Linked DNA regions of Homo sapiens. The protein of the gene in region 1 purifies or fractionates together with the protein of each later gene. This does not show direct contact. Each region holds a gene or a part of one and is shown in the gene's direction. Other genes may lie near its edges. The genes, in order: MYH4, GAP43, CNTN1, GNAO1, EPB41L1, DHX8 and MPP1.

Region 1 (3,955 bases):
CATAGAATTTTATCAAAATAAATTTTTAAAGTATAAAAGATTCAATCTATCAATGTGTCAAAGATAAATTCTAAGTCAACAGAATTATAAAAACAGTGATCTCATTAATTGGTAATTTAAGCCAGCTAATGATAGTTGAAAATATCTCACCAGAGCTCAGTTAGGGTCACACTTAGAGTAGGTATATTTCCTGCCATATTCAGTAACAGCTGTGTATGTAGCAAAACCATCAAAAGCCAATTTATGAGTATTATGGGCATATGTGATGGCCCATCCATCTTTTCAATCCACAGGGAGAATATCGTGGATACCATGACTTTCCTCCCACCTTAAATAAAAATATGTGGTTCCCACCTCATTAGAGCTATAGCTAGTCATGAGAGTCTGCCCATGAACTAGGAATGCATGTTTGTGTCTCCTTCCATTATGCAGAGGAAACATGCATGGAACATCACACAGCATCCTGTTGTTCCTTCAGTGAAAACATACAAGCTGGAGATATCCATGGAAAGTCCTCCAGAAAAAGAACAGAAGTGTTTATATCTATTCTAAATCCCTTATGCCTCCCCCAGTGGTCCATCACCACTGCCTAATCTGAGAATTCACTTTCACCTTCATATTTAGACTTTCAGACTTTAAAAGAATCTATCGCCAGTCTTTCTAAAATCCAGACTGTGGCTAGGAATGTTGTCTTAAAATCCATCGCTCACTGCTTCCAATCATAGTGTCAGGTCTAAAATTCATTCCAGACTCCTTAATGGCTCTAAGAACCAACAAATTAATTAATCCTAAATTCCTCACATCAGACTCATTCTGTTGGACCAATTTTATAGGCAGAGGAGTAAGTGGGAATCTGGCTTTGAATTCTGTGATGAATGATGCAACAGCCAAACTGGAGAAACAGTGTTAGAAGCCCTGAATCCCCATCCCCTATCAAATGCCTATAAAGAACCCTAGATCATCCTCTGTTAAATTATTTATGGGTGTCAAGAAATATTTCTAATTATATCCATTCACAGCCACAGTCAGTGAATATTGTGCAAAGAGATTGCCAAAAACGGTTTTGCCAAGTAGGTTCCCAGCTAGGACAGCTGAGGTGGCTGCTGTGTTTGCAGAATGGTCTCTATAAAAGTGGAGCTGAGATGCCTCTTTCCCATCCTTCCTCAAAATTCTTGAAGGTATGTATATGTGGAAGAACACTTACTTTTACATTCCTGATGATGATGATTTTTCATTTAAGGGATGTCTACTGCTTCCCAAATTTTAATTATTCTTTCCAACATTCTTAAGGACGACATTGTAGACAATATAGTTACTAGTATTTTGTGATTAAATGGGGAAAAAAAAGCATCCCACATTCTCTTTTTTCTTTCAACAGTAGTTGTCTGCTTTGAGCCTGCCACCTTCTTCATCTGATAATACAAGAGGTAAGAATAATTTATTATTACACTCTAAAGAACAAAGGAATCTCTATATTGCTACATCTTAATGAGCTACCATTTTATTTCCTAGTTTAGTATTGGGAATAGGATATCGGGGCAGCTGTTCTTTAAAAATGCCTTCTCATAAAATTTTGACTTTTCAGGCCACTTAATCAAACAAAACTTAATGAAACTTCTCTTTCACATGTTGTTAGAACTACAGAAAGAATGCAGCCATCATATGTAATATTTAATGTGAACTACTACTCCAACTTAACCCATAAAGATATATCAGAGAGACCGCATGATAAAATCAAGGTGTGTTTATCTGGAAGTCGATATTTCTAGGTGCCAATCCAGGCTTTTCACTGATTCTATTTGCCTGGGTCAAGCCAGTTAGCCTTTATGTATCTTGAAATACAGTGTGTTGCAAGTGGAATTAACAAACCTGCATTTAGCGGAACAGGACTCATGTCCCAGTACCGCCACTTATCACCCACCACTATGACACTGAATGACCCTGAACCTTTCTAGGCCTTAGTTTCCTCATCAGTAAACGAGGAGGCTGGATTCTATTGACTGCTAAGGTCCTTCCAGCTCTTGCCAACTGTGATTGACGTCAGTGGTTTTCAAGGACTCCTCCACAGAATCAAAACATTTAATGGAACCCTGCTAATGGAGAATCAAAACTAATGGAATCCTGCTAATTGTTCATGTGGAGACATGTACTTTTAGTATGATGTTAAGGATATATATAATCATGAAAACCTATTCTACACTTAAGAATTATTTTAAATGAGTTTATATTTAACATAGCAGCTATATTCATTTAGAAAAGAACAGAAAACACTGTTCATGTGGAAATGTTCCTTCCTTAAACTTGAGGCAATGATCACTGTGTGGGTGGATTCAAGAACCCCCTGCAACAACCTGAGGCTCTATTGGGGCTTGATCCCCAAGTTGGGAAACAATTAATCTATAATAAGACAGGAGATGGGAAGGGTAGCAATCATCTTTCTGTGTTTCCTGGATACACTGCATTATAGTAACCTCCACGTGGTAGTGTGTTGTTAATTCAAGTTGCCTGGTGTAAAAACAAACACAGAAACAAAATATAATGTAATATAAATAACATTTCTTCTTCAAAGAAAAAAAACCTGACATTAAATGTTCCAATATATATCCCCTGAAAATATGTCTAAGTTTCACAGTGTCATCAGGACACTTTTACAGATAAGACTGATTTTGAAAATAGAGTATGTGGAAATTCCATAGCTAACATTTTAAGTTGAGGGAAAGTTAATGCTGATGACAAAAGATCAAGACTCTGGAAAGCCTACAGAAGGTGGTGGCTATTGCTGTTGTCGCCATCATTGCTGTCATTGTCATTGGCAACCAAGACACTTCTGCTCCACAGAGGTCACCTTCTTTTATTCTGGCCACTCACCCTGTCCTTGCCATCAGGACAGCAGGACTTATTTTATTTTCTCATAATTAATTTGTCAGTAGGGAAAATTTTTTAAGTTCATTTTGGCTTGAAACTTTATACTGGCTATCCATTTCAGAAAAATATTTAGAAGACTGGTTGGTATTTTTAAAAAGAGGAGAAGAAAGAACGAGATTATAAACCTAAGAAAATAAGAATCAGATTTTAAAATATGTTAGGTTGAAATCCAACTAAAAACAAAGAGAAATACAGATCAACACATACAATCACTATAAAATTTTATTAAAAATTAAGAAGTTCCTTTTCTCCAAGAATCTTTTAAAGTTGTTTTTGGTTTAGATACTACTTCTGACTTTCAAACAATTTCAAAACTAATAAAGGAGATTTTAATTTTAACTTAGGGCAAAATTATATGTTGGATATTCAGCTTTCATTGTAGTTATTTTTTCCTTTACTTACCTAATACCTGTCAGTTAACTAGGTGTTTATTTGTAATGATTAGATCTGGACTTATGTCCGGAAAGAACAGGTGTATCTGTCTACATTCAATTTTAGTAAATCTGACATCCAATTTTAATAATTTGGGATGAGAGGAAAATTTGCATAAAGATCTGTATTTGAGTTTTTAAGACAGGTTCATTTATATTGTAAAGCCAGTGGAAACAGTTATTGTCCATTTCTTTGTATCATCACGATGTTAAGAGGGGGAAGTTGGAAATAAGAAAGAAAAGAAAAGTAGCAAGAAAAAGAAAAAATTCTGAACATGCTTGGAGCATCACAAATGTTGCTGATTGAATGTTGATTCCTCCACATTTCTCAACTAAGGTTTACAACATAGAGGATGGAACTTAGGCTTAAAGTATCACAAAAATTAAGCTATCAACATAGTGCTTTCAAATCAATGAGCTGATCTCTCAGCTCCTTGACATAGTATACAGGAGTGGTCCCTAAAGGCAGGGGTGAGGAAACAAGCATGGAAAATTAAGCACATTAATATGAAATCAACAGAACAATTCTCCACCCCAACCCTGAATCATCATTTGGCTCTGTTTCTTCCTCTAGGTATACCTAGTCCAGTACTGCCATC
Region 2 (3,500 bases), on another chromosome or scaffold:
ATTCCCAGGTGCCCTGTACTGCATTTCCTCTGCCTTCCACTGTATTTCATTTTAACCTGGGTTAAAGTAGCAGCATCTTCCACTGGGCTGTACTGTTCGGAAATGGGTGGCTACCATGGGTTGCTTTAGGATTCTACAGCTGCCTGGAGGGGCGTGGACAGACAATCTAAGAGGGTGCAACAGGGTTAAGGGGAAAAATAGGTACAAAGAGAAAATCTAAGAAAATAATTTCTGTGAATATCAGGCTTAAAAATTTTAGATATGATTATTACTTTAATACCTATGGAAATGTTGGGGGAACTATAAATGTTATTTATTTTACTTCTTTTACTATTTACTACCAACCTGTTTGTTATGGGGGGATGTCATTTGTATTTTGATCTTTGAAGTTGGTTGGTTATTGTCATTGTTTTAAATTCTCCAAGTATGTCCACCTCTCCCTAGTTTGCCACGCTGCCTGCCCAGCTTTTTACGTGCCTGGGACCAAAACATTTCAGCGCACCTCTGACAATGATTCCTTTAGAGGAAGAGGAGTGTTCAAAACATCTGTGGGACACTGCCCCATTCAGTCATGAGTAGAGAACTTTGAAGCCCCCTTTAGTGATTATATCCTTGGGGTCTCCTGCTGAGCAGTGTCACTGTGCTCATTGGCTCTCAATGAAGGAATTCTCTCTTACGTCTCCTCTTCTCCATGGTAGCCTATTGATTTTCCCCAGTAGAGGACTCTGCTGTGGTCATATTCAGTGATGTGGTACAACCAAGGTAACCTATCCAGAGGGCTATCAATCAGTGATATTGATTGGGTGGCTGCCACAGGGTCTTTGACTGATGCTAGTTGGAAGTGTAGCTCTGAGTGACTTTAAATGTTCTGTATGTTGATCTTGGCTGCATTTTATTTTCATGGTCTCAGTACATCTTGCAAATTGATGCCATCAGTAATGATCAAGAAAAGAGGGAGGAGTTTCCTATTGCCATTCCCTGAATAGAAAAATTAACTTAGTGTCTCCCTGCTTCTCTTCCTCCTCTTTTTTATCCTTCCTTCCTCCCTCCTTCCTTCCCATTCTGTCTCCTTCTTTTCTATTCTTCCTTTCTTTTTCCCTTCCCTTTATATTAACTTTCTTCTGTGCTAGGTATTGGAGTCACAAAGATGAATAAGATATGATTTTTTGTCCAGGTGCGGTGGCTCATGCCTGTAATCCCAGCACTTTGGGAGACCGAGGCAGGAGGACTTGAGTCCAGGAGTTTGAGACCAGCCTGGGCAACAGAAGGAGACCCCATCTCTACAAATAATAAATAATTAGCAGAGTGTGGTGGTGTGTGCCTGAGGTCCCAGCCACTCTGGAGGTTGAGGCAGGAAGATCACCTGAGCCCGGGAGGTCAAGGCTGCAGTGAGCCATTATTGTGTGCCATTGTACTCCAGCCTGGGTGACAGAGTGAGACCCTGTCTCAGAAAAAGTAAACCAAACCAAAACAAAAACAAGATGTACTCTTTTGACCTTAATGAATTCTTACTTGGTATGGGGGTAGTATGAAATTCAGGGAATGACATTGAAAACAATCATATTCATAATCTCAATTAAATTCTGCAGTTAGGTACAGGGCACTTCCCTATGCCAATGCACTTTGGACAAAATATGAATGAGGCAGTGCTTCAGGGGCTAAGATGCAGTCTGCTGCTTACTATAAAAACGTTGCATATAATGTATGTCCTGATACTCAAATTATTAACGAAAAGAATAGATGCAAAATTTAGAATTTCTAGAATGATAATTGTGTATAAGAAAATGAAATACCCAGCTCATATTTCTGAATTTAAAAAATTATTTATGTTTCCCAGAACAATATTTTCCCTAAGACCCAAGGTAACCATCTATTTTTCAGCTTTCCAAAAGATAGGTCCACTTCTACCAAGCTGTGTGTTAGATGTGAGATTTTCCAAGGATATTTACACTTATTTGGCAGGGTGCCTCGTGAGCGGCTTTGATTTGAAATGTGGTTTCAACCACTTCCTAAATTTATACACAACTCACAAAGAATGAAAATTTTGGTTGTGGAAGTCCATAAATGCTGTTTATAAAACATGGGCACCCTGTCAGATACTCAGTGGTATACCTCTTAAATACTGTTGATTATTAAGCTTTTATGGAGCACTTTTATATTGCTAGAGTAATCATTTTTATTGGCTTTTCTTGACAACAGCCCAATGTCATTTGATAATATTTTTCTTTCTATTTTTATATTCCAAGAATAGGGACAAAGTAAATGGATATTCTGGCCACAAATACAGCCAGTGACAAAATGAGGATCAAACTGATTGAACTCTAAATCCTCACCTTAACTGTAGCCCTACAGTTCTTTCTCTCTATTAAGGTGTTATGTTTTGTCTCAGTTTCTGCATTTTCTTTTTTATCTTAGCTGTTGTTGTGATCTGATGCTTTTGGGAAATACCAACCAGGACCTTACTAGGATATTCTCTGTCCTACCTGCCTTGTAATATAATGCAGGGAAAAGATCTTTGAACTGAAATAAAGAGACCAGGGTTCTAGTCTCAGTATTTCTACCAACCAGATTTTAGGCAAGTTATTGCTTCTCTGGACCTCATTCATCTCATCCTTAGGAAAAGGGACTACGATAGTTGGTTTTTAAGGTTTTCTTTCAAGAGTTAACATATAAAAGTCTAATAATAGGTAGCACTTAATGAGCATTTATTAACTGCCAGGTCCTGTGCTGAGTGCTATGTGGGGATTGTTCCATTTAATCATCATAACCACTCTGTGGTAGTAATGTAGTAGTGTAATTTTCCCTTCCCTTTTTACAAGGAGAAATCTTAGCTTTAGGGAGACTATGGGACTTAATCATTGTTGACAGCTAGCAATGTTGAACCAGAAGCCAAACCCTGAGAGTCTGAGAGGTCACATGCTGAACCCTGACACTTATCCAAGTGCTATTCTGGAAGAAACAAAGAGGAGAGGAATGTCTAAGGACCCCAACAATGTGTTATAATATAAGAACATCTCTCTTCTTTGGATAATTGGATATTCCAGACTCTTGTCTGGGAATTATTAGGGATAGCATTTACAGATGGGTGTCTAGTAACTACTATAATTCCTGATCATAATTCCCTCACAGCCCTATCACCCCAGAATTATTAGGGATATTAAACTGTTTCTGAGTCTTAGATTCTTATTTCAAAAATGCTCCAAGTACTGTTTTATTAGACCTGAGAGAGCTATAAAGATCAGCTGAAAATGATTGTTCTTAACAGATGTATTACTGACTCCATCAAATACATCAGTTATGCCAGGAGGATCTGAAAACTAGAAATGGAAATTTTCATATCTCAATCAGATGAAAGTCATTTTATTTATTGTAGGCAATTGCTACCCTAAGTTTAGCTTATCAGAATCAGTATCTTTTTTATATTCTTGCTTAGGTCTACCCCCCTTTGGCAAGTGCATTTCCAAAGGATCTGGTACCTTTATAACTAAAATATTAAAGAA
Region 3 (3,500 bases), on another chromosome or scaffold:
TCCCTGTTCAAGCAGTGTTTCAGGGTAGTCCTGGGATAAATTTAGCAGGAGAGACAATACAGAAAGGGCACTTGGGCCCTGAAATATAAAAGCTTCCTAAAAAAGACAAAAACTGAACATAAAGTATCTTCTTTCAGTTTAAACAACTTTCTGTAATCTTACTCTACCTTCTCTCTCTCTCTCTCCTTATTTTTTTCCTTTGTTCCACTTTTCCACCCTCTTCCTACTCATCCATCTCCAATACCTGATATTGTCCTCTTTTTCTTGCCACTATTTTCCTGTACCCCACAGAGACAGAGGTAAGAGTGAAGCTCTAAGTCCTACCTTTGGCCCTGGGGACAAGTAGCAGCAGTGGGATTCTTCTCTACCTTCCCACTGTAATCTCCCAGCTGGTCCAAGAGGGGAAAAGGTGGACTCTCAGCTCTGTAGGATGAATAGAACAAGAGCCTTTGGGCATGGTAAGTGGGTTTTCCTTTCCCATGCCATGAAAATCCCACTCAGTTCATCTTAGGTAACAGTGGGGGCAGATGAACATAATGTATCTAAATGAAAAGACAACCAAACCCAGACCTAAGTGAAAGTATTTCTATTAAAGTTCATTGAGAATATGTTTCAATTTTATTCTTTTCAGTATCATAAAGGGGAATTAAGACTGTATGATGTGACTTTTGAAAATGCCGGAATGTATCAGTGCATAGCTGAAAACACATATGGAGCCATTTATGCAAATGCTGAGTTGAAGATCTTGGGTCAGTATCATTTCTAATTTCTGTTAAACATTGTTAAAGCAATATGTCATATCACACAAAATGTTTATTGAGCCTACACAAAATACCCAGTATTGTGTTAGGTGTACAACATATGTTGGTTGTTTACTGATTTATTTATTGCTAATTATCATAATTCAGACTAACGAAACAATGGAATAGAATGAATCTTTGCCACAACAAAAGTCTTCTTCAGAGCATCAGCAGCAGTGGCCATACCTAGGAGCACATTAGAAGTGCAGAATCCCAGGCTCACCCCAGACCTACTGAATGGACACTTTAAAAAGATACCCAGATGATTTTAATACAAAGATAATTTTGAGAATGACCAGACCAGAGGATGAAGAGTCAAAACCCAGATGAAGATATGCTTAGGCCTAGAAAAGCCTCCAGAAAGTACATAGTTACGGATGATTGTAATGTGTTGAAATATATGGATGAAATCTGCTTGGAGTCTGCCAAGGGAAGAGGAGAGTGAGCAGTGGATTAAATGTGTGGATGCTGAGGAAAGTCTGAGCATGACATCAATGAAGTAACCTTTTTTAAGCCTCTGTATTCTGTTCTAATAATTATTGCTCTGTACTTGGAGGTAATGATGAACTACAAATGATCATGTCTCCTTAATTAGTTGATTAGATCCATTATTCCCATAGCTGTTTATAGATAGATCCTGAAAGCAGGACTCCAATTATTTTGGCATTTTGCAGGGTGTTTGCATACAGATGATGCTCAGTAATTGTATAAAGAAGGAGAGACTGCATTGTTTAATGAAAAGTACATGCTTTGGAAACAGAAGGACCTAGATTCAAATGTGACTCCCACTTATTACTACCTGTGGTACCTTTGCCAAATTAAATAATCCTAATAGATTTCAATTTTCTCATTTATAAACTGGGAATAGTTCATTCAACATGTGGTTTAGAGGATTGACTAGGACCATATGTCAGTGTGTATAATGCTGGTCAATTTTTTCCAGCCTTTCACTTTACTTTCCTTGTGGAATTGAGTCAAAGCAACAGAATTCAGAGTTAATTTTAAGGTAAATGTGTATAAAACATTTGATTGAAATTGAAGTTATTTATTTATTGAGACAGGGTCTCACGGTGTTGCCCAGCCTGGAGTGCAGTGAGGCGATCACGCTTCACTGCAGCCTTGACCTTCTAGGTTCAGGTGATCCTCCACCTCAGCCTCCTGGATAGCTGGGACTACAGGCATGCACCAACATGCCCAGCTAATTTTTTTGTATTTTAGGTAGAGATGGAGTTTTGCCGTGTTACCCAGTCTGCTCTCAAACTCCTGGGTAAGCCATCTGCCCACCTCAGCCTCTGAAACTGCTGGGATTATAGGTGTGAGCCACCCATGCCTGGATTCTAATTAAAGTTTCTAATAATCAATTCAGTTATCATCAAGAATTGTACATTTGAATTGGGTGAATTTTATAAGTCAAAGTTATTAAATAAAAGTTACAAAGCATTAGGTATAGAATGCCTATTGGTGACAGCTGATCATATTTACCGAGATTAATCCTTTCCATTAACTATTAAGGAGAATAAAAGATTCTACAACACAGAAGCAATGTTTAGGCTTTACAAACAGAAAGAGAAAGATAACAATTTGTTTTCTTTTTAGCGTTGGCTCCAACTTTTGAAATGAATCCTATGAAGAAAAAGATCCTGGCTGCTAAAGGTGGAAGGGTGATAATTGAATGCAAACCTAAAGCTGCACCGAAACCAAAGTTTTCATGGAGTAAAGGGACAGAGTGGCTTGTCAATAGCAGCAGGTCAGTGCTGAAACTAGAAATCCAATTGCAAAATCTGTTTGAAAAAGTTTATTTTATAGAAGACTTGTTTATATGTTAATAATGAAAATGTTTTTTGCTCTGAATTTTTTTTTTCACAGAAGATCCTGTAGTTCTAAGATGGACAGAAATACCTATCCCTGTCAGTATCTATTATAATGAAGGTTTAATTAACAGGACTCTATAATGTATAAGGAATTTAGAAAATTGAAGCTCAGAGGTGTTTTTTTGTTGTCTTGTTGTTATAAATTGCCCAATGTCACACAGCTAATAAACAATGGGAAATAAAGTAGGATCTCTCTAACATATTTTTCCCCAGTATAGGCATCTGGCATCTATATCCATTCATATTCAACTGAATTTTGTGCAGTTAGCCTATTAAATATTTTTGTAGAAAAATAAAAAGGTGATTTCAAAGTGCAAATAATCTCTTCCTATCTCAAAATGAACAAGATGTTATCATCATCTTCCTTATAAATGGACCATCTACCAATGTTTTGGTGGTTTGGGGACAAAATGAAAAAGCAGTGTACAACTTATATAGATTATTTGTATAAAAGCCACACTGAATAGTTTATATGTATCCTAGAAGAAGTAATATTGAGTGCAAAAATTATGACGAGGAGAAAGCCAGGATGGGAAATGGGAGGGATGGGATGTGTGGGTTGGCTTGAGGGTGTATGTGAGGGTGTATGTGAGGGTGTATGTGAATGTGAGGGCAGCATGTACAAAGGCCCTATGGTGAGGAGTTTAGAATGTGTAAGAAATTGCAGAAACTGAAATCAGTGTGATTTGTCTTTAGAGGAAAATGGAGGAGACTTTTAAGAGATGAGACATAGTAAGCCACATCATAAATGACAAAGTTTTCTATGCTAAGGGGCTTGGGCTTCATCTAAGAGTAATATAAATCTGTTTAAAGTCTTAAACAAGGGAGG
Region 4 (3,500 bases), on another chromosome or scaffold:
TGTCCCGGGAGCTGCATGCGTAGCCCTTTTGGCTGTGAATGAGTGCGTGAGGCCAAGACCCCTAAGACCCACTTCCTCAGTCGCCCCCACTCCCTATGGCCTGGAATGGAGGTGATGTCTTTTCCACAGTGACCTGGAGGGGCCCTGACCGAGACTGGACTCTGAAGATGGGTGGCCTGGCCAGTCCCGAACAGTGTCCAGGCATTTGGTCCATAGTCCCCTGTTTGTTGCCATCCTCAGCTACCTGGACAGCCTGGATCGGATTGGGGCCGCCGACTACCAGCCCACCGAGCAGGACATCCTCCGAACCAGGGTCAAAACCACTGGCATCGTAGAAACCCACTTCACATTCAAGAACCTCCACTTCAGGTGAGGCCCAGAGAGGCCCCCAGGCCCTGGCGAGGGCTAAGATGGGACATGCCCAGCCTCTCAGCGCATTGCGTTTACAGCGCCCAAACATCATCCTGCCCCAGGGAACCTGCGGGCTGGGGCAGGCAGCTAGATACTAGAAGGAACCTGTCTGTGTTTCTGCCAAGGTTAGGGGCTGGAGTGAGCAGGGAGGCTTTCTGGAAGAAGATTCCCAGAGTGGGGCTGTGAGGAACAGGGAGGATTTGGACAAGGAGGGGCAGCCTGTCCCTGAGGTGACTTCCAAGGAGGAGGAGGAGGTGGGCTACCAGGGGGCCCTTCCAAGGTCACCTTGGGGGGAGGAGCCAAGAGTGGGGCTGGGTAAGCCCAAGCTACCTCTGTGAGACCCTGAGGACCCAAGTAATCCCAGAGCTGGAAGGAGCAGAGAGAGCTGACCCACCCTCTCCTAGTACGCTTGGGAAGCTGAGGCCTGACAAGAGCAGGGCTTTTCCCAGGCACAGAGCACAGCTAGAACCCAGGGGCTCTGGGGCCTCAGAGCAGGGGCCTGACGGGTGAGCTGGTTCCCAGGGTCCTGCTGCAGCGCTGTGTCCCCACCTGCAGTAACATGCGTGCACTGAGGCCTGCTCCGTCCTGTGGGGAAGAGAGGCCAGCAGAGAAGGGGAGGGCAGGGACCCCTGCTGGGAGAGCTGGATTCTAATATTCCCTGCCTCCCATGTCCCCAACTCCTGCCCGCTCCTGTTCAGACTGAGGGGCCGAGGCTCTGGGCCCAGGAACCCCTAGGCCTCCGCAGATCTGGGGAGCAAAACCTTGGGCAGAGCAGCCCTGAGGGGCCTCTCTTGCCTTCCCAGGCTCCTTGGTCTCTCCTGCTCCCCCACTGGGAGCACAGGATGGGGATCTCAGCTCAACCCAGCCCAGCAAGGCGGGGTCTGAGAATAAGCATTCTGGAGGGGCCACAGAGGCCATCTGCCAACGCCCCTGCATTTCAGATGGGGAGGTGGGATCCAGGGGAGGATCCCCTGATTGATGGAATGAGAACCAGACCCATTCCTTGCTCTGAGCCCACACTAATCTCTGCCTGCAGTCACTCCGTTGTGTCCGGTGGGACCAGAGATCCTTCCCTGTCCCCCTCTGGCAGGCTGTGTGTCAGCAGGCATCCCAGATCTAGGAGGCTACAGGACTCCTCGCTCTGGGGATTGGGGTGGGAGACTGACCTTTTACTTCCAGGACGTAAGTCCCACCTGCCCACAGTCTCTTCCAGAATTTTTGTGCCCCCTCGGGAGTAGAGTCTGAGAGGGGGAAGAGGCCAGGCTCTGATCTGCCAGAAAGGGGCCGTACTGGGCAGAGGTGAGAGCGCCAGCTTTGTCCACAGCCAGACCCAGCTCCACCACAGCTGGACTCTCGCCAGCTTGGGCATGTCCTAAGCCCATGGGTGGCTCACTTCTGCCATCCACATAACAGGTGACATCTCCTGCCTGCCTCCCTCCCAGGCTGGTTTGGAGTTTGCCCAGAGCAAACCCAGGAAGGAATAGACTGAGAGGAGGGTCCTCATGCGAGGAGGACTCTCAGAGGCACTTCCTGGGGGTGGCTCAGGTGCGCCCTCTTAGTAAAATGCTCCTCAGATGCAAGGGCAGGTCTTTGAGTCATGATCTGTGAGCACAGCCAGTCCCAGGACAGACTCCAGGGGTAGTGCCTGGGGATGGCAGTGATCCAGCTGTCTGTCATCACCTGGAGTGACAAGGTCTTCTAGTGAGGGCTTTTAGCAAGGCTCTGAGCACCATGGCCCCCATCCTCTGCCTCTCAGCGTGCTCACAGCTTAATCCCCAGGCAGCCCTCACCTGCCTGGACCCTGCGCCTACCAGCTCCCTGCCTCCTACAGGCTGTTTGACGTCGGAGGCCAGCGATCTGAACGCAAGAAGTGGATCCATTGCTTCGAGGACGTCACGGCCATCATTTTCTGTGTCGCGCTCAGCGGCTATGACCAGGTGCTCCACGAAGACGAAACCACGGTGAGTGGCCTGGGCCCCCCGGGCAGGGGGCAGCGCTGAGGAGACGGCCGCAGGATAGGCCAGCCCTCTGAGCACTGGGCCTCGGGTGCCCACAATGGCTCTGGGGTCCAGCCAGCTGTTGTGGTTAGAGGTTTCCATCATGGACAGGCCGTGCCGGCACTCCACCAATTCTGTATTGCCAAGGCAAATGCCTCATGATGCCAGTGTGGCAGAGCCTGTGTATGCAACCTGATCACACAGAGCCGTGCAGAATGTGCCTCTTCCATAAACTTGGTGGAGTCACAGAGGCCATCAGGCCATAGCAAATTTAAGCAAACCCTAAAAAAACCAGGAGGCAGCCAAGCAAGAATGTACAGGCAACAGAAATAGCAGTCTTAGCCTGACAGCCATCCCTGGGGCACTGGCGTCAGATGCTGCTGAAGCAGCATGGGGCCGGGGATGCTGAGGGAGAGGTGGGGAGGGCCCAGGATGCTGCAGGAGAGTTGCGTGGGGTTGGGGGTGCTGGGGAGCAGTGTGTGGGGCTGATGGGCCAGGAAGGGCAATGGGGATGAGGCATGCTGGTGAGTGACAGTCGTGGCTCTGGGCTCCTTTGCCAAATGCCAGACCAGGCTCCTACCTTCTGTCTTGCGTCACATTCAGCCTAGGGCCTCAGTGAGGGGACATTCCCCTGGGAGAGTGCAGCCTTCCTCTGGGTCTAGTCCTGGCTCTGCTACTCACTGGCTTGCTGCTGAATTTAGGCAGCACCCTTTCTGGCTCAGTTACTATTTTCCATAAAAGGGAGATAATAATAGTACCTGCCTGTGGGGGGCTGTTGGCAGTGGGGTGGGTGATGCGTGTGCAGCGCTCTGGAGCTGTTTCTGGGACAGCAGCGCCAAGCTGGTGGTTGTACAGTTGCTGGTGATTGCCCTGAGCCTGCAGGTCCACTGCGTGGTCCCCTTCTGGGCTGCAGCCCGCCAGGCACCGAGCATGGCCCACAGGGTCACTGGAGACAAGCCCCAACACTCCTGACAGCGGGGCCCATAGGCTATGGGGTCACAGCCTGGCGTCTGTCATCTCCTTCTGTCTGGAACACATGCAAATCCCCCACCCCACGCCTCTGAAGGCTGGCACCGAGGGTTTGAGGTTGGA
Region 5 (3,500 bases), on another chromosome or scaffold:
TGCTCTCCAGGTCATTTTCCTCATAGCTGCTGGAGAGATCTTAAAAAGTCCCTTAAATCAGATCATGGCAAGCCCACTCCCCCTTCCCATCCACACCCTTGCTTACACCTTTCAGGAACTCTCTTTAGCTCTTGAGCTAAACTTCAAACTCCTTCCATGGCCACCTACCTCTCCCACCTATCCCTTGCCACACTGCCCCATGCCCAAGGTGCTTTAGCCTCTTCGGCCTTGAGATCTTTGAATAAGTCGAGCTCTTTCCTGCCTGAGTGCTTCGCATTTGATGTTTCCTTTACCTGAAAGTATCTCCCCCTCTCGCTTCTCACATAGCTGGTTCCTTCCCATTCTTCAAATGTCAGCTCAAGATCACCTAGATCTAGGTCTAGAGGGGATCCCCTGCTCTTCCTTAGATGACAGGAGCCCCTATGCCTTCCCAGTTCTGCTGCACCACACATCTCCCTTCATTCCCCTTGTAGCCCTGATCAGTGTCTGCAATTATCTTGTTTGCTTATTTGTTATTGGAGGTCCCCTTCCCCTACTAGAATCTTCTGCCTTGGTCTCCATGTATCTCTAGTGTTTAGCACTGGACCCGTCACAGAGTAAGGGCTCAATCACCCTTATTGATTCAGTGAATGAACAGGCCAAAGTCGCAGATGCCTGAGAAGAGTTCAGAAAGAATGACTCACGTCTGTAATCCCAGCATTTTGGGAGGCTGAGGTGGGAGGACTGCTTGAGCCCAGGAGTTGGAGACCAGCCTAGGCAACATAGTGAGACTCATTCTCTACAAAAAATTAGCTGGTGTGGTGTCGTCTGACTGTAGTCCTGGCTACTTGGGAGGCTGAGGCAGGAGGATCTCTTGAGCCCAGGAATTCAAGGTTACAGTGAGCTATGATTGCGCCACTGTACTCCACCCTGGGCAAATGATCGAGACCCTGTGTCTCAAAAAAACATTAAACAAATAAAATAAAAAACACAAAGAATGGGCTAGTGGCGAGAGTGAGCTCAGGCCCTGCCTCTAACCTGCCCTTTTGGTTTTCCAGTATGAGCAATTTGAGAGCACAATTGGCTTTAAGCTCCCAAACCACCGGTCAGCCAAGAGACTGTGGAAGGTCTGCATCGAGCATCATACATTCTTCCGGTGAGCCTGACCTTGGATGGGGTAATGGGGATGGGGCAGAGGCCATGTGTATGGAGGGGAGCAGGGGGAGGAGTTAGTGAGAACTCTAGGAAAGTCCTCCACCCTTTCCCCAAGTCCCTCCCTTCCTGGACCACTTTGAATTGTTGTAGTTGGTGGAGTAGTGGGATGAAAGGCCAGCTGTGGTCTAACCTTGGGCCTGGCAGTGCAGGTCTGATTCCTCCTCCTCCCCTGCATCCCTCTGCTGCAGGCTGGTGTCCCCTGAGCCCCCACCCAAGGGCTTCCTGGTGATGGGCTCCAAGTTCCGGTACAGTGGGAGGACCCAGGCACAGACTCGCCAGGCCAGCGCCCTCATTGACCGGCCTGCACCCTTCTTTGAGCGTTCTTCCAGCAAACGGTACACCATGTCCCGCAGCCTTGATGGAGGTATGGCCCAAATTGGAGGGCTGGGCGGGGAATGGTCTTCAGAGGGAACTGGGGGAGTGGGCATGCTGGGTTCTGCAGAATGAGCAGGAAAATGGTAGATGCATCCCAAGTTCATCTGCACCAGGCTGGCCCCTCAAGACCAGTGCTGTCCCTGGGCAGCTCTTGGTGGCTTAGTCCCAACCTAGAGCTCACTCCCACTTGAGATGTGATACTACCACTCTCTGGATTCCCCACAACTTCCCTGAGTCGTGGTCTTTTGGGGTCCCAGGTTTAGCCATATGGTTTGGGCCACCTACCCAAGAAGCTTAGCAATCCACCAGTCTAACCTGTGGTCTAACCTTGGGCCTGGCAGTGCAGGTCTGATTCACCCTCCTCCCCTGCATCCCTCTGCTGCAGGCTGGTGTCCCTTACACTGGTCATCATCATACTAGGAGAATAGTGTCTTATGACTGCAGTGTGGAGCTGATGATGCCTTATCTGCTGGGAGGCCAGGGCATCGTTCTTGGTCATTCTTTTGGTTCTACTAGGTTCTGGGCTGATTGACAATCTAACCACATGGCACTCTCCACTGTCCCCATTTCTATTGGATTGATGGGTGCCCTTAACATCAATGAAAACTGGCCCTATATAGTCCTGTAGCAAGCAGATAGGGCTTAAAATGTGGTGCACAAACCACGTTTCATCAGAGTCGCCTGTGAGATTGTTAAGCAAGCACGAAAATTCCCAGGTTTTGCCCCAGACCTACTAAATCAGCACCCTTCAGGGCCCAAGTCTCTCCCCAGGATGTACACACTAGAGTTTGTAGGTGATGTTCGGAAGTCACATGGGTCACTGGGGAGATTCAGAATTATGCAGATCTGAGTTCAAATCTCGGCTTGACAGTCACCGTGGGCTGTTCTCTGGACACTGGAAGTGGTTCATAAATATCTGAATGAATGGATGGGTGACCTTAAGCAACTTATTTAACTCCCTGAGCCTATTTCCTCTTCTACAAAATACATAGTACCTACTTTGCTGTGTTCTAGGGAAAACTAAATGAGATCATGCCTAGAAAATATTCTGTGGCACATAGTAGCACCTTAAGAAATTGTACCCATCATTATTGTTTTTAGGTTTGTAGAGAGTGGCTTAAAGGTGGGAAGTGGGGGCTGGGCATGGTGACTCATGCCTGTAATCCCAGCACTTTGGGAGGCCAAGGCGGGCAGATCACCTGAGGTCAGGAGTTCGAGACCAGCCTGACCAATATGATGAAACCCCATCTCTACTAAAAATACAAAAATTAGCCGGGCGTGGTGGCATGCACCTGTAATCTCAGCTACTCGGGAGGCTGAAACAGGAGAATTGCTTGGACCTGGGAGGCAGAGGTTGCAGTGAGCTCACACCATTGCATTCCAGCCTGGGCAACAAAGCGAGACTCCATCTCAAAAAAAATAAAAAAAATAAAAAATAAAAAGGCCAGGCACAGTGGCTCACACCTATAATCCCAACACTTCGGGAAGCCAAGGCAGGTGGATCACGAGGTCCAGAGATCAAGACCATCCTGGCCAACATGGTGAAACCTCGTCTCTACTAAAAATACAAAGATTAGCCAGGCATGGTGGCAGGCGCCTGTAGTCCCAGCTACTCGGGAGCTCAGGCAGGAGAATCACTTGAACCCGGGAGATGAAGGTTGCAGTGAGCCAAGATTGCACCGCCACTGTACTCTAGCCTGGTGACAGAGCAAGACTCCGTCTCAAAAAAAAAAAAAAAAAAAAAAAGGTGGAAAGTGGGGACTTGGGTAGGGAAACCGTGGATACTCCCAGAACACCTTGGGGCAGGCCTCCAGGCAAGTTAGTTCTACTTATATTTTCTGAGTGTTATATGTGTGCCAGGCCTTGTGTTGGGTCCTGGGTATAGTATTTAGAGTGAATAGGTTTGGTCCTTTCCTTTGAGGAGCTCATAG
Region 6 (3,500 bases), about 33 Mb from region 1:
TGTGAGTGAGCTGTGCCCAAGATTGAAAGCATGTAGTCTAAATGTTAGCCAAGATTATTTATGGGTGGTGCTACTAGATGATGTGCATTTTCTTTTATACTTTTATATGTTGTCTTAATCTTTTACAGTGGGTATGTATTACTTTCATAATTTGTGAAAGCCTTAAGGCTATTTTTATTTTGAAACTTAAGTAATAATAATAGCTAACACTTTTTGTTTTGTTTTGTTTTTTGAGATGGGGCCTTGCTCTGTCGCCCAGTTTGGAGTGCAGTGGTGCAATCTCAGCTCACTGCAACCTCGGCCTCCTGGGTTCAAGTGATTCCTCTGCCTCAGCCTCCCAAGTAGCTGGGACTACAGGCGCATGCCGCCATGACCACCTAATTTTTGTATTTTTGGTAGAGATGGGGTTTCACTGTCTTAGCCAGGATGGTCTCCATCTCCTGACCACATGATCCACCCGCCTCAGCCTTCCAAAGTGCTGGGATTACAGGCATAAGCCACCGCGCCTGGCCCAATAATAGCTAACACTTACAGTGTACTTAACGTCCTAGATACATGCATTGACTTGGTGCATTCTCGCATTGATCCTATGTGGTAGATATTATTTTCACAGATGAGGAACCTGAGGCACAGAGGGGTTAGGTGATTTGCCTAACATCACAGAGCTAGTGGAGCCAAGATTTGAACCTGGGTAGCCTGGCTCCAGCTTGTATGCTCTATACTACTTGTCAGGGTGGCGGTGATCAAAAAATTAGTTACACATGCCTGTCCTGATTTGGAGAGAGACATGTGTAGAATGCTGTAGAGTCCAGCCACTGTGTGTGATTGCTGCCTGGATTTGTGTGGTTAGTTGTCCTTTCATAACCTATCCTTTGGTTTGGAGCTGGCATAGTAATTTGTAAATCCTGGTACTGTTTGTAACAACAGATGGTTTTGTCAGAAAATGGCCCTCTTCAGATTGCTATTCATTGTTTCCTAGCAACCTATGGCTAAACTACATTTTTTTTAATTAAAAAAAAATCAGTGTTTTTGAAGTAGTGTTTTATTATTTTTGAAAAACAGAAGAAAAAAATTTACCCACCATCCTACTACCTCCACTGTTATTATTTTGCTGTTTTTCATTCCAGTCTTTTTTCATGTTTATTTCTTTCATGGTTGCAATTTTAGTAGTCAAGTAAGTATGCAGTTTTGTATATTTTTTTGAGTATTTAATTTTCCTATTAGAATAATACATGTTCAATATTTGGTAAAATCTAAAGAAAATAGACCTCATCTGCAAGCCTACTATCAGAGTTAGCCACTGTTAACATTTTAGGGTTTTTTTCGCCTAGTCATTTCCTTCTAGTAGTTGATATATAAAGACTTTTACTAAAATTATTTTACATTGTTTCGTAACTTGCATTTTGCATTTAATGCGAATGAACATTTTCTTCTGTCATTTAACATTGCAAACATGATTTTTATTTTTATTTTTTATTTTATTTTGAGTCAGGATCAGTCTTTGTTGTTGCCCAGGCTGTAGTGCAGTGGTGTGATTACGGCTTACTGCAGCCAGCCTCGACCTCCCCAGGCTCAGGTGATCGTCCCATCTGAGCCTCCTGAATACTGGGACTACAGGCGTGAGCCACCACACCAAGCTAATTTTTGTATTTTTTGTAGAGATGAAGTTTCAACATATTGCCCTGGCTGATCTCGAACTCCTGGGCTCATGCAATCTGCCCACCTTGGCCTCCCAAAGTGCTGGGATTATAGGCATAAGCCACGACGCTTGGCCTGCAAACATAATTTTTAAAATGACTGCAGAGTCATCATTGGGATGATTGACGTAATATGTTTATTTCACTTACATTTTTGGTCATAACTGTGGGGATGGTGTTCTGTCATCTTGTTTTATGCTTTCTCTTTTATATTGCGCCACACTATTTTGAAGATATATGTCTCAGATCTGTATAATATTTCTTCCATTAACCCTGCTTGTATTGCCTCCCTCGAACAAACTTCCCCGAAGTGCTGAGTATGGAGAGGGGAAGATAAGAGCATTGGTAGTCTTGGAAATGGTCCCAAAGGAAGTGAAATCAACCCCATTTCTGATTTTGCCAGTTGTTAATTGTCCCCCTTTTAACAGATATCCTGGGTAAAGCTGTTAAGCAGTGTTTAACAGATATGTTGCTTTTATATGCCCACCCCTCTAGGCTCAGGCAAAGCAACGAGCTGGCAGAGCTGGGAGAACAGGCCCAGGGAAGTGTTACAGGTTGTACACAGAACGTGCCTACCGAGATGAAATGCTGACCACCAACGTGCCGGAAATCCAGAGAACCAACTTAGCAAGCACAGTGCTGTCACTCAAGGTAGAAATCACTGTCTTGTTAAAATGGGTTGGTGGAACAGTCCAATCCTGGCCTTCATAAATGAATTTCAGTTTTATGAACCTTGTTAAATACTTTAGTAACCTCATGAAAGCAGTCCCTTTGAGTGAAATGCAAATGGCTGTGATAACAGCCTCTCACGGCAGGTCTGGGGCTAAGTTGGCATGTCTGCTGTGAACACACATTTTTTCTTACCATAACAACCAGCAGGATATTAGGTTGTAAAAGGTTCTAGTTAGGAGCATTTTCTAAAAGGAAATTAGAAAAATATAATCAATGCCAAACTGTGGACACACACACCTAACCTCAACCACTTTAGCGCTCAGATCCAATTCTGTTCTTTTAGAACGAGAGAAAACCCCCTGTTCAAAAACTTTGCAAGGGAACTGTCAGTACAGATTTCAGACTGGCTCTCAGGGGCTTGGTTTTCATTCTGAATCATTGTTCTTCCTCTCTCAGTCCCCAGTGAGGACTTCATTCTCTTTTGGCAGGAGGAGCTGTATGAGTAATTTCCCAGCTGATGGCGTTTCCCCCGACACTGATGCTACCCTGGAGCCCTGGTACTTTCTGGTGCAGAGTGCTCTGTTGTCATTTATTATTTATTCCCTGTCAAAGAGGCTAAAACAGAGCTTTGGAAAGAAAAAAGAAACCTACTCCAGTCTCTGAAGTGCCAACAGAGAGGCATCTGTGGCTTGGACTTCAGCTCCAAACTGCGACTTTGGGCAAGTTTATTTACTTTGCCCTCTGCTCTGTGTTCTGCTCTGAAAAAGGGGCTGTTAATAGTATTTGTTGGAAAGATAAGTGAGATAATGTAGGTAAAGGCACTTGGCACAGTGCTTGATGATTGCTAACATAATTCATCATAGTTATTATTCACACAATAAACATTTATTGAACACCTGCTGTGTTTATGGTCACAATCACTTTATGAGAAAGAAATAGAAAGCTTAGGTCCTACCACATCACACTTTATATACACTTGAATCGTGCATCATTCAGTCGTTTCTTTTATTCATCGAATTAGCTAATGTATTGAACACATGCTACATGCCAGGCATGTAGATTGCACTGTGGTGGTTTTGTGAACATAGTTTTTACCCAGTGTGAACTCTCTGAAAGCAGGGGCCATATCCT
Region 7 (3,302 bases), on another chromosome or scaffold:
GTCAGCCTGGAACAAGAACAGTAGTACTGGGAATGATGGAAAGTTGTATTGGGGTAAAGCTCAAAGCTGCTTATTAGAAGGAATCCATTATGACAGCTATGTAGGTTTTTTTTTTTCACTTTCCTTTTCTTCCTTCCCCCCCCTCCCCGCCGCCCTTCTTTTTTTTTTCTAGACCCTGAAAATTGTTCGGACAGCAGAACTTTCGCCTTTCATTGTGTTCATTGCACCTACTGACCAGGGCACTCAGGTGAGGAGAGGTTGTGCGCGATGGGTAGTTCACTTTCTCCGGGCCTGCCCATACTGGGACCTCAGTCCAGGTCATTGGCCAGAGTGCTGGCTGGAGGTCACAGCTCCAGCTGGGCTTCTTCCTCCAGGGCCAAGAAGCCAAAGGGTATGCACATTCGTTCCAGCTCTTAAGCCACTAGCTAGGCCAGTGCCCATGCTACCTAACAGGGACAAAACAAACCAGACCCAGTCATCGTCCTGGAGGCACACAGTTCCAGGGGCAGAGATGGACAGTTGAGCAGATCCTGATACTGGTGGGATGCAGGCTCTGGCAGGGGAAGCTGTGATGGACAGAGGTGGCACTGAACCCGCCCTGGGGTGCAGTATGGCTGTGGGGAAAGACAGAGAGGCCAGGAATATATCAAAAAGCCTACCCTGCTCCTCTGCCCAGCCCTACCCATGCACTTTGCTGCACTGTGCTTTTGCATTGAACAATGGACACCTTTCCCTATCAGGGTGTGAGGAACTCTTTTTCTCTATAGCTGCTTGGTCTTCTGCTGCATGCATGTGTAATACTGCAGTCAATAGCCCTGTGCATATAGCACATGTGTGCAAATATATCTGTAGGAAAAACTCCAAGTAGGATCACTGGGTCCAAGAGCACACACACTTAGAATTTGGACAGGGACCGCCAACCACCTGTGAGACTGCTTGTTTCTCTTTGCCTGCAGCATGTTGTCAAAATTTTCTTTTTTTGCCAGTCTACTGGAGGGAAAAATAGTATCTCATATTTCTTTTTTACTAAAAGAGATGATCAGGTACTTTTTCATATGAAGAGCAATTTGTATTGCCTTTTCTGAGAATTATCTGGTCATACCCTTAGCTCATTTTTCTGCTGAGTTATTGACCTTTGATTTATAGGAAGTCTATATTAGGGTAATTAGCCCTTTGTAATATCAGCTGCAATTTTTTTCCAATTTGGCATGTCTTTTTGCTATGCAGACATTTTTACTTTTATGTAGTTACATGATTTGTCTTTCATGGCTGCTTGGTTTTAGGTCAAAGACAGAGTCCTGAGATATATATACACACACATTTTTAAATTTTGTTTTTTGTAGAAATGGGGTCTCACTGTGTTGCCAGGCTGGTCTTGAACTCCTGTGCTCAAGCAATCATCCTGCCTTGGCCTTCCAAAGTGCTGGGATTACAGGTGTGATCTGGGATTAGAAGTCACCTTTATCTGACTGGGTGCAGTGGCTCACACCTGTAATCCCAGCACTTTGAGAGGCCGAGGCGGGCGGATCACCTGAGGTCTAAAGTTCCAGACCAGCCTGGCCAACATGGCAAAACCCTGTCTCTACTAAAAATACAAAAATTAGCCAGATGTGGTGGCGCATGCCTGTAATCCCAGCTACTCGGGAGGCTGAGACACGAGAATTGCTTGAACCCGGGAGGCGGAGGTTGCAGTGAGCCGAGATTGTGCCACTGCACTCCAGCCTGGGCCACAGAGCAAGACACTGTCTCAAAACAAAACAAAACAACAAAATCACCTTTATCTTCGTTTTAGGATTGCAGCTCTGGTGGTTGTTGAAATGGCTCTTCCATGTTCAAAGGGCATTAAGTGGGAGATGCTGGTGAAGTCCATGCTGTCTCTGCATAGCTATTGGTCCTCCAGAGGACTCTGATTAGTCAGGGTTAGCTTGAGATCCTCTGAGAATTGCCATGGTCTTTTGAGATTGCCTCTTCATGCCCTACATTAACATTCTTTCACAATGTCTTCTGAATTTGACTCGTCAAGTATGATGCACAGCTGAGCAACGCTAACAATTGCTGTTTAAAATCTGTCACTGGCCTCTCTGGGCTGGGGGTGGTGCAGCTTGCTTCATCTGTGGCTTTCTTCTTTGCAGACAGAAGCCCTGCAGCAGCTGCAGAAGGACTCTGAGGCCATCCGCAGCCAGTACGCTCACTACTTTGACCTCTCACTGGTCAATAATGGTGTTGATGAAACCCTTAAGAAATTACAAGAAGCCTTCGACCAAGCGTGCAGTTCTCCACAGTGGGTGCCTGTCTCCTGGGTTTACTAAGCTTGTAGAATGGGGGAACCCACTGTATGCCCCTCTCCAGCATTTGGAATTCCACCCGCCTTGCTTTAAGACAAACAGGGCTGCTCCAACTAGTTTTGTGTCAGCTTCCAGCTCTCTGCAGCTATCCTAATTCAGCCAGTAAGGTTCAGTCTTCTTGCTCAGGCTCCTGAAGGGTTGATTCTCCTGATAGATGGGGCCCCACTGATCTGGATTTGAAAAGGATTTCTAGAAATTGGGGGTAAGAAGTACTACCAAAATGTAACTGCTAATCAAGGGTGATGCACAGCAAAAGCAATGGACCCCATCCCTCTAAAGCCTGCCCTCCTTTGCCTTCAACTGTATATGCTGGGTATTTCATTTGTCTTTTTATTTTGGAGAAAGCGTTTTTAACTGCAACTTTCTATAATGCCAAAATGACACATCTGTGCAATAGAATGATGTCTGCTCTAGGGAAACCTTCAAAAGCAATAAAAATGCTGTGTTGAAATGCCAATGACCTTGTAACTCTGGGTTTCCACACAAAAAGAAATGTGGCCCATTTCACTTAAGCTCCTGGACAACAGCATTAACACAAGATGCCTCTCTTGTGTTCAGATGATAAACACTGGTGCCCTGGAAGAGTCCCCATTCTCTGCCCCCACTGCAGGGCTCTACTGGCTAGTGCCCATGTAGAAAAACACCCTTAAGGTTGTTGTAGCTAGTGGAGCGCTCATTGTGGGCACATATTTAGAACGAGAGAAAATCCAAGCCTGGGGTCCCGTGGTACAGTGGAGGCCGGTCGCTGAGCCAGGGCTGGGGCCCACCCTGCATGCCTGGCTCATGATATGGCTACAGCTCAGGGCCTCGCCTCGCTGCATCCAAGAGCGCTTTTTTTTTTTTTTTTTTTTTTTTTTTTTTGAGACAGTCTGTTTTGCCAGGCTGGAGTGCAGTGGCAGGATCTCGGCTCACTGCAACCTCCACCTCCCAGGTTCCAGGGGATTCTCCTGCCTCAGC

Evidence for each region.
Region 2: the proteins of MYH4 (region 1) and GAP43 purify together in Homo sapiens (affinity purification with mass spectrometry; one large-scale study listed by BioGRID and IntAct). This does not show direct contact.
Region 3: the proteins of MYH4 (region 1) and CNTN1 purify together in Homo sapiens (affinity purification with mass spectrometry; one large-scale study listed by BioGRID and IntAct). This does not show direct contact.
Region 4: the proteins of MYH4 (region 1) and GNAO1 purify together in Homo sapiens (affinity purification with mass spectrometry; one large-scale study listed by BioGRID and IntAct). This does not show direct contact.
Region 5: the proteins of MYH4 (region 1) and EPB41L1 purify together in Homo sapiens (affinity purification with mass spectrometry; one large-scale study listed by BioGRID and IntAct). This does not show direct contact.
Region 6: the proteins of MYH4 (region 1) and DHX8 purify together in Homo sapiens (co-immunoprecipitation; one large-scale study listed by IntAct). This does not show direct contact.
Region 7: the proteins of MYH4 (region 1) and MPP1 purify together in Homo sapiens (affinity purification with mass spectrometry; one large-scale study listed by BioGRID and IntAct). This does not show direct contact.

Annotation. Positions count from the first base shown.
Region 1 is NC_000017.11:10,466,760-10,470,714, reverse strand, and holds the start of MYH4 (myosin-4), read left to right. Parts: upstream 1-1,155; 5' UTR 1,156-1,178; intron 1,179-1,378; 5' UTR 1,379-1,427; intron 1,428-3,771; exon of another isoform or gene 3,772-3,930; 5' UTR 3,931-3,955. UniProt on the Homo sapiens protein: Muscle contraction.
Region 2 is NC_000003.12:115,679,010-115,682,509, forward strand, and holds part of GAP43 (neuromodulin), read left to right. Parts: intron 1-3,500. UniProt on the Homo sapiens protein: This protein is associated with nerve growth. It is a major component of the motile 'growth cones' that form the tips of elongating axons. Plays a role in axonal and dendritic filopodia induction.
Region 3 is NC_000012.12:40,936,939-40,940,438, forward strand, and holds part of CNTN1 (contactin-1 isoform 1 precursor), read left to right. Parts: intron 1-631; coding exon 632-749; intron 750-2,396; coding exon 2,397-2,547; intron 2,548-3,500. UniProt on the Homo sapiens protein: Contactins mediate cell surface interactions during nervous system development.
Region 4 is NC_000016.10:56,334,489-56,337,988, forward strand, and holds part of GNAO1 (guanine nucleotide-binding protein G(o) subunit alpha), read left to right. Parts: intron 1-240; coding exon 241-369; intron 370-2,242; coding exon 2,243-2,372; intron 2,373-3,500. UniProt on the Homo sapiens protein: Guanine nucleotide-binding proteins (G proteins) function as transducers downstream of G protein-coupled receptors (GPCRs) in numerous signaling cascades.
Region 5 is NC_000020.11:36,189,240-36,192,739, forward strand, and holds part of EPB41L1 (band 4.1-like protein 1), read left to right. Parts: intron 1-1,037; coding exon 1,038-1,135; intron 1,136-1,382; coding exon 1,383-1,558; intron 1,559-3,500. UniProt on the Homo sapiens protein: May function to confer stability and plasticity to neuronal membrane via multiple interactions, including the spectrin-actin-based cytoskeleton, integral membrane channels and membrane-associated guanylate kinases.
Region 6 is NC_000017.11:43,514,975-43,518,474, forward strand, and holds part of DHX8 (ATP-dependent RNA helicase DHX8), read left to right. Parts: intron 1-2,192; coding exon 2,193-2,348; intron 2,349-2,857; exon of another isoform or gene 2,858-3,088; intron 3,089-3,500.
Region 7 is NC_000023.11:154,778,184-154,781,485, reverse strand, and holds the end of MPP1 (55 kDa erythrocyte membrane protein), read left to right. Parts: intron 1-172; coding exon 173-247; intron 248-2,132; coding exon 2,133-2,309; 3' UTR 2,310-2,802; downstream 2,803-3,302. UniProt on the Homo sapiens protein: Essential regulator of neutrophil polarity. Regulates neutrophil polarization by regulating AKT1 phosphorylation through a mechanism that is independent of PIK3CG activity.